Homo sapiens: one gene and its partner. The protein of the gene in region 2 interacts with the protein of the main gene of each other region in a pairwise test. Each region holds a gene or a part of one and is shown on either strand. Other genes may lie near its edges.

Region 1 (3,031 bases), on a different chromosome or scaffold from region 2:
TTCCCACAAATTTTGCTAAATAAATTGAAGTTTATTATATATGGATCAACATCTTTTTTTTTTTAATTCAGAGTTTTGGAAGATAGTCTTAATAGTGGAAGATAAAGTAACTAGATTCTCTCTCTCCCTTTCTTCATTGATATTTATGGTTCTCTATTCTGCCTCGCATATAACACTCATAGATGATTTATACAGTGGAATTGTTAGGTTTTACCGAAGATGCTTTTTTAAAAAAATACCACTATTTTTATTCTCCAAGAAAAGAAAATTGACATTTAATCTATGGTGTTGATATTTTGCAATAGTTATCATAAGTCTTATCTTTTTTAAATATTTCAGACCTCATAACGCCATTTTATTATGTACATAACCCTCTGTAAAGTTTGGATAACTATAGCTACTTTTTATATAGGAATCTGTTTTAGTGAACTTAAATTATTTGCTTAAAGTCAAACTATTAAGTGTTGGAATTGTCATTGTCTTTGGAATTGGATACCAACAATTCATGTGTGATTTTTGTAGCTAATTGAAGGTACATCTGTATTGGGGAGTGGAATATTATATTTTTTATCTTGTGTTTTATCTAGCTATTACCTATATTTAATAATGGTTCAAAGAATTTTAGCTTTACACTATATGAAAAATCACATTGCCTTTGCATTTAGATTTTCTTTCGAAATAAGCTTTGGATTATGTTCAAATAAGCTATGGGAGTACATAGGAGGCATCTCTGCTGGCTTTGTGGGTTAGGGAAAGCTTCCCATTGGAGGTGACCTATCAGCTGAGTCTTGAAGGGAAAGCACTGTATTTTTATATACATATACATATGTATATATATATGTATATATATGTATTTTTTTTCCCCCTTAGGTATTTGATTCCAAATGCAGGGGATGCAACTAAAGCCATAAAACAGCAGATCATGAAAGTTTTGGATGCTTTGGAAAGTTAATATAAAAGAAAATTATATAAAAAGAAATTAAGACAACCAAGAGAAACATGGACATATACCTCCTGACTGAATACTAACTGGAGACCTTTCATTTGCTCATGGGGCTGCTTAAATAGCAGGTCTAAGAAAGTGTAAATTATTATAATCAATCTGTGGACAGTAAACTTTTTAAAAATTTTTCTTCTGCATTTTGGTTTTATAAAATGATGTATTATAAAGGTCAGTTATTAAATTACTTTGAAGTAACTGACCCTGTGCCCTTATGGACTAAGTAAGGGTACAGAATGCAGTTCTGTTTTGAAGAGCTGTTTTAAGGGAACATGCATCACTTTCGGGATCAAAAACAACTGTACACATACATATCTGCAGTGTCTTCACTGAAAATTAGAGATAGAATTAGTTGAAGAGACTTCCTTAATTGCTACATTGTTTTACTCACTGAGCAATATCAGAAACTAAAACATAGATTAATAATTCACTCACTGTTTCTATTCTTCTTAAAAAGAGTGAAATCTTTTTAATGGAATGGTTGAAGATTCCTGCCAACTCAAAATACAGTACAGCTAGTAAAATGTTGAAACATCAGTTTCTAAATCACCTTTGCTCCATTAGCTAATTTTTTGGACACTAAATGCTTCAAAGATAAGAAACTTCATCCTAATGATTTCTAAAGAGCAGTTAAAAGCATTAAAATAAGTAGGTAGGCTGTTAAGATTAAAATTAACATTTTGGGGACAGAATTGTGTCTGTAAAAATGTCATTGGTTTTATTACAAGCGGATTATTTTATTCATATTTTAAAACAAATGTTTAAGCCACATTGATTTATCCTCATTGAGGATTATGGTCTGTGACCACAGTAATATCCACTTATATAAATGCCAAATAATCAGAGAGCTTATAAAGTACAATTGTTTTTGTCATCATTTTCTGAATTTCTTTCTCTTCTTTTGGTTTTGTCCTCTCATTGAAGTTCCAGTGGTTTGAAATTAGTTTTGGACACATTGTCTTAATGTACTGAAAATTGCTCTGCTGTATTTTGCAGCGTTCTTCATTTAATTTATAATGGTCCATATTAGACACATTTGGTAAGAGAAGTCCAGGAACACATTTAGGGCCATGGAATAGTATTTTGTAAAATCCATTTGGGAAGTTGCAATACCCACAATCTGACATGTCCTAAAATGTAAGGGATTATCTCTAAGGGGTTGATGGGAGAAATATTTAGATGTACCCTGTTAACAGCCAGTCATTTTGATTTACTTATGGAAATCAAGTGAATAAAAGGCAACATAATTTGGGAAATTTTATTCTAATATCTAATAAAAACAGTTTGAGTGGTTGAAGACATCTGCATGAAATTGCACCTAGGTGCATTACTTGATATAACTCTCCCCTAAAACTGTTGTAATTGCATTTTTTCCCTTTTCTTGGCACCCCTTTAGAAATGTACTGAAGTCTCATTTTTCACCCATTTCAGCCATGGGACATTTTTCATAATATTAATGTAAAGATGTTTGTGTTACTGTTTATAAATTACAATTGTAAATAAATTACTAGTTTGCCCAAAACTTTGTTCTTAAAGACACTGTCTCTCTCTTTCTTTTCCCTATTTGCAAATCTCTTAAGGTCACAAAATTAGAGAATTGAAGGCATGTAGTAAGTTACCTACTACCATGAACTACACAGTTACAGGATTATTTATGACTATTAAATGAAAATACATTTCATTGACTGTTCTAGGCACTTGTGTAGATCATCCTCCCTTCACTGGCCCACTGACCACAGAGCTGGGAATCACTCTGGGGTGGCCACCTCTCATGGGCTCTTGTGATTGCAAAGGTTGCAACTTTAGGAGGTTGTTTTTTGTATTTTCAAGATAAGGAAACCAAGGCTCAAAGAAATTGAGTGAAAAGAGAAAGTATTCCTCTTATCTCCACACTCCTTGGAAATTATTTTTGTCTGTGAAGGTATACAATTATTTCTCCTATATAGGATTGATGCCATTTGCCCACCATTAATAAAACTTGGTCAGTATGATAAATTTGTATTGACATACTCAACCATTTTTGTCACTGGT
Region 2 (3,657 bases):
CAGCCTCCCAAAGTGCTGAGATTACAGGCATGAGCCACTGAGCCCGGCCATAATGGTTGAGTTTTTATGGCGTGTACGTTAATCCTCAATGAAACTGTTTTTTTAAAAACAGTGCTGGATGTACGGTAAGCACTCAGCAAGTCATGGTGATGTCACCCACTGGGAAGCACCCTCTGTGGTCCCTGCTGTGTGTGTGGAGGCTGAGGCAGTTTCAGCTTTGTCCTTACATCTCTCAGCCCACTGGGGACACAGACCTGGCCCCTGAGTGGTCAGCCCAGGGTGGGCAGGGGGATCCAGGGAGCTGTGGGAGCCCAGGGCCAGTGCCTGACCCAACCCCCAGCCTGGGGGTCAAGGAGGACTTCCAGGAGGAGGGAAGGCAGAGTGGGAACCCGGAGGACGAAGAGTTAACTGGCAGAACAAGGAGCTAGCCCTGATTTACTGACTTCATGCCCTCCAGCTAGAGCTCACTCAGTGACTCTTCACAACAACCCCAGGAGGTGGGCACTGTTCTGACCCCATTTTCCAGATGAGGAAACTGAGGCACAGAGAAGTTAGGGGACTAGCTAGGCGTGGTGGCTCACGCCTGCAATCCCAGCACTTTGGGAGGCTGAGGCGGGTGGATCACCTGAGGTCAGGAGTTCGAGACCAGCCTGACCAACATAGTGAAACCCCGTCTCCACTAAAAATACAAAAAAATTAGCTGGGTGTGGTGGTGGGCACCTGTAATCCCAGCTATTCGGGAGGCTGAGGCAGGAGAATCACTTGAACCCAGGAGGCGGAGGTTGCAGTGAGCCAAGGTCCTGCCACTGCACTCCAGCCTGGGCAACAAGAGCGAAACTCCGTCTCAAAAAAAAAAAAAGAGAGAGAAGTTAGGGGACTTACTCAAGACACACAGGTAAGAGGCGACAGAAGAGGAGTCCCATGGGCCCCTATGCTCCTCCGGGGAGCTGGTGCTTGCACCCATCCTGCCTGAGAGGAAGCAGCCTCCTTGCGGGCAACGCAGGGACCGGGATGGGGTTGGGGGCCGTTGTTTTGGGGGAGGAAGGGCCAAGTCACTGGAGGGACAGCAACTGGAGCCCCCCCTCCCTCCCGGTGTCTCCACAAACACACATACTGGCCCAGATTCGGAAAGTGTGTCTCATGGGGCGGGGAGGGAAGAAGGGAGAGAGGTTGAGTCAGTGTGGGATGGGAGACGTGGCAAAAAGGAACCTTGGGCCCACAACGGCACTCACCCAGCGAAAACAGGCATTGTTGGCACTTCCATAGCGCCTACTGTGTGCACACACAAGTGTGCACCTTCTAAGTGCTTTGTATGTTTTAACTAATTTAACCTTTAGGACAACTATGAGGCCGCTAGTATTATTATTCCCAGTGTGTGTGTGTGTGTGTGTGTGTGTGTGTGTGTGTGTGTGTGTGTGTTTTGTTTTTCTGTTTGTTTATTTTTGAGACCAAGTCTCACTCTATCGCCCAGGCTGGAGTGCAGTGTCATGAGCTCGGCTCACTGCAACCTCCACCTCCTGGGTTCAAGCAATTCTTCTGCCTCAGCCTCCCGAGTAGGTGGGATTACAGGCAAGCACCACCACACCCAGCTAATTTTTGTATTTTTAGTATAGACAGGGTTTCACCATGTTGCCCAGGCTGGTCTCGAACTCCTGACCTCAGGTAATCTGCCCACCTTGGCCTCTCAAACTGCTGGGATTACAGGCGTGAACCACTGCGCCCAGCCCATTATTCCCATTTTGCAGGTAAGAAAACTGAGGCAAAGAGAGGTTAAGTGGCTTGCCTAAGGTCCCACAGTTTAAAAGCAGCAGAAAATAGGCTGGGCGGTGGCTCATGCCTGTAATCCCAACACTTTGGGAGGCCGAGGTGGGTGGATCACGAGGTCAGGAGTTCAAGACCTGCCTGGCTAAGACGGCGAAACCCCGTCTCTACTAAAAATACAAAAAAATTAGCCGGGCATGGTGGCAGGCGCCTGTAATCCCAGCTACTCCGGAGGCTGAGGCAGAGAATTGCTTGAACCCAGGAGGCGGAGGTTGCAGCGAGCCGAGGTCGCACCACTGCACTCCAGCCTGGAAGACAGAGTAAGACTCCATCTCAAAAAAAAAAAAGTAGCATAACATAAATAAATAAAAGTAGCAGAGCCCAGATTTGAGGGCTTTACTATGCTACAATCACACATGCGTGTGTTCACACATCTTACATGCAGAGGCAGCCACACACATGAGCTCGCATACACACACACACACACACACACACACACACACCCCCAGTAGCACATCCAGACACAAACATAGCCAATTACTACAAGATGCAGGCTCCCAGACATACCCGTGTTCACAATCTGGGACCTACACAGATGTTTGTGGTCACACAATCACAAAGATAATGTGAGATGCACACACGGCATAGACACAGAGACCTGCACGAACACACAGGTACAGAGGCACACATGCATGCACACCCACACAGACACAGTCGCACACACATAACCTCCCATGCCCTCCCAAATCCAAAGGCACACACACAGACGTAATCACACACAGTTACACAAAAGATGCACTCCTGCACACACACACATTCTCACATACACAACACCACACAGAAGCACACAACTGTATCCGGAGATACAATCACAGGTAGTCACACACAGTCCCACAAAATCCCCGCAGCCCTGACCGCCCCATGCAGCCACACAAAGTCACACACAGCCCACAGCCCAGATACACATATATGCCTAGACCATCTCACACACAGGCACACAATGTCAGACTCACACCTACAATGATACACACTAAATCCACATAGACACATAGACAAAAGTTGCCCTTTATGTCTGTCTCTCTCACACACACACGTCACAATATAACAGTATATAGGGACAGAATCAGTTGCACACTATCCCACAAAGTCTCTCATAGCCCTACACAGCCCTTCAGAGTCACACAAAGTCATCCAGCAGGCCGGGCATGGTGGCTCACACCTGTAATCCCAGCACTTTGGGAGGCCAAGGCAGGAGGATCACCTGAGGTCAGGAGTTCGAGACCAGCCTGGCCAACATGGTGAAATCCCGTCTCTACTAAAAAAAAATACAAAAATTAGCCGGACATGGGTGCGGCGGGCGCCTGTAGTCCTGGCTACTCAGGAGGCTGAGGCAGCAGAGCCACTTGAACTCGGGAGGCAAAGGTTGCAGTGAGCCGAGATCGCGCCACTCCACTCCAGCCTGGGCGACAGAGTGAGACTCTGTCTCAAAAACAAACAAAACAAAGTCTTCCAGCCACAATTATAGGCACATGCGCACACACACACACACACACAGAGGCATGTACACAATTCAAAGTCATACAACCTCAGAGCCATGGCCACAATGAGGCACGTCCACTGCTATACACAAATGCGTGGAACCACCACACCCAGGAGTACACTCATAATGACACACTTTCCCAAGATATACACAAAGTCACACACACACACACACACACACATATACACACCAACAGCTGGACACTCTCTCCTCCTCTTCCTCTATCCTCAAGGCCAGGGAGGGAGACCCCGTTCCCCACTCCCCCACCACCCATGGCCTTTGAACCCCCCTGCCGGCACCCCTGCCCTGGCTGAGAGAGCCTCTCCCTCCCGCTGTCCCAGGTCCAGGCCCTGGGG

What was found.
Region 1: the proteins of EHD2 (region 2) and TBC1D23 interact in a two-hybrid assay, tested with the Homo sapiens proteins (one large-scale study listed by BioGRID and IntAct).

Annotation. Positions count from the first base shown.
Region 1 is NC_000003.12:100,322,717-100,325,747, forward strand, and holds the end of TBC1D23 (TBC1 domain family member 23), read left to right. Parts: intron 1-870; coding exon 871-952; 3' UTR 953-2,522; downstream 2,523-3,031. UniProt on the Homo sapiens protein: Putative Rab GTPase-activating protein which plays a role in vesicular trafficking. Involved in endosome-to-Golgi trafficking.
Region 2 is NC_000019.10:47,719,772-47,723,428, reverse strand, and holds part of EHD2 (EH domain-containing protein 2), read right to left. Parts: intron 1-3,657. UniProt on the Homo sapiens protein: ATP- and membrane-binding protein that controls membrane reorganization/tubulation upon ATP hydrolysis. Plays a role in membrane trafficking between the plasma membrane and endosomes. Important for the internalization of GLUT4.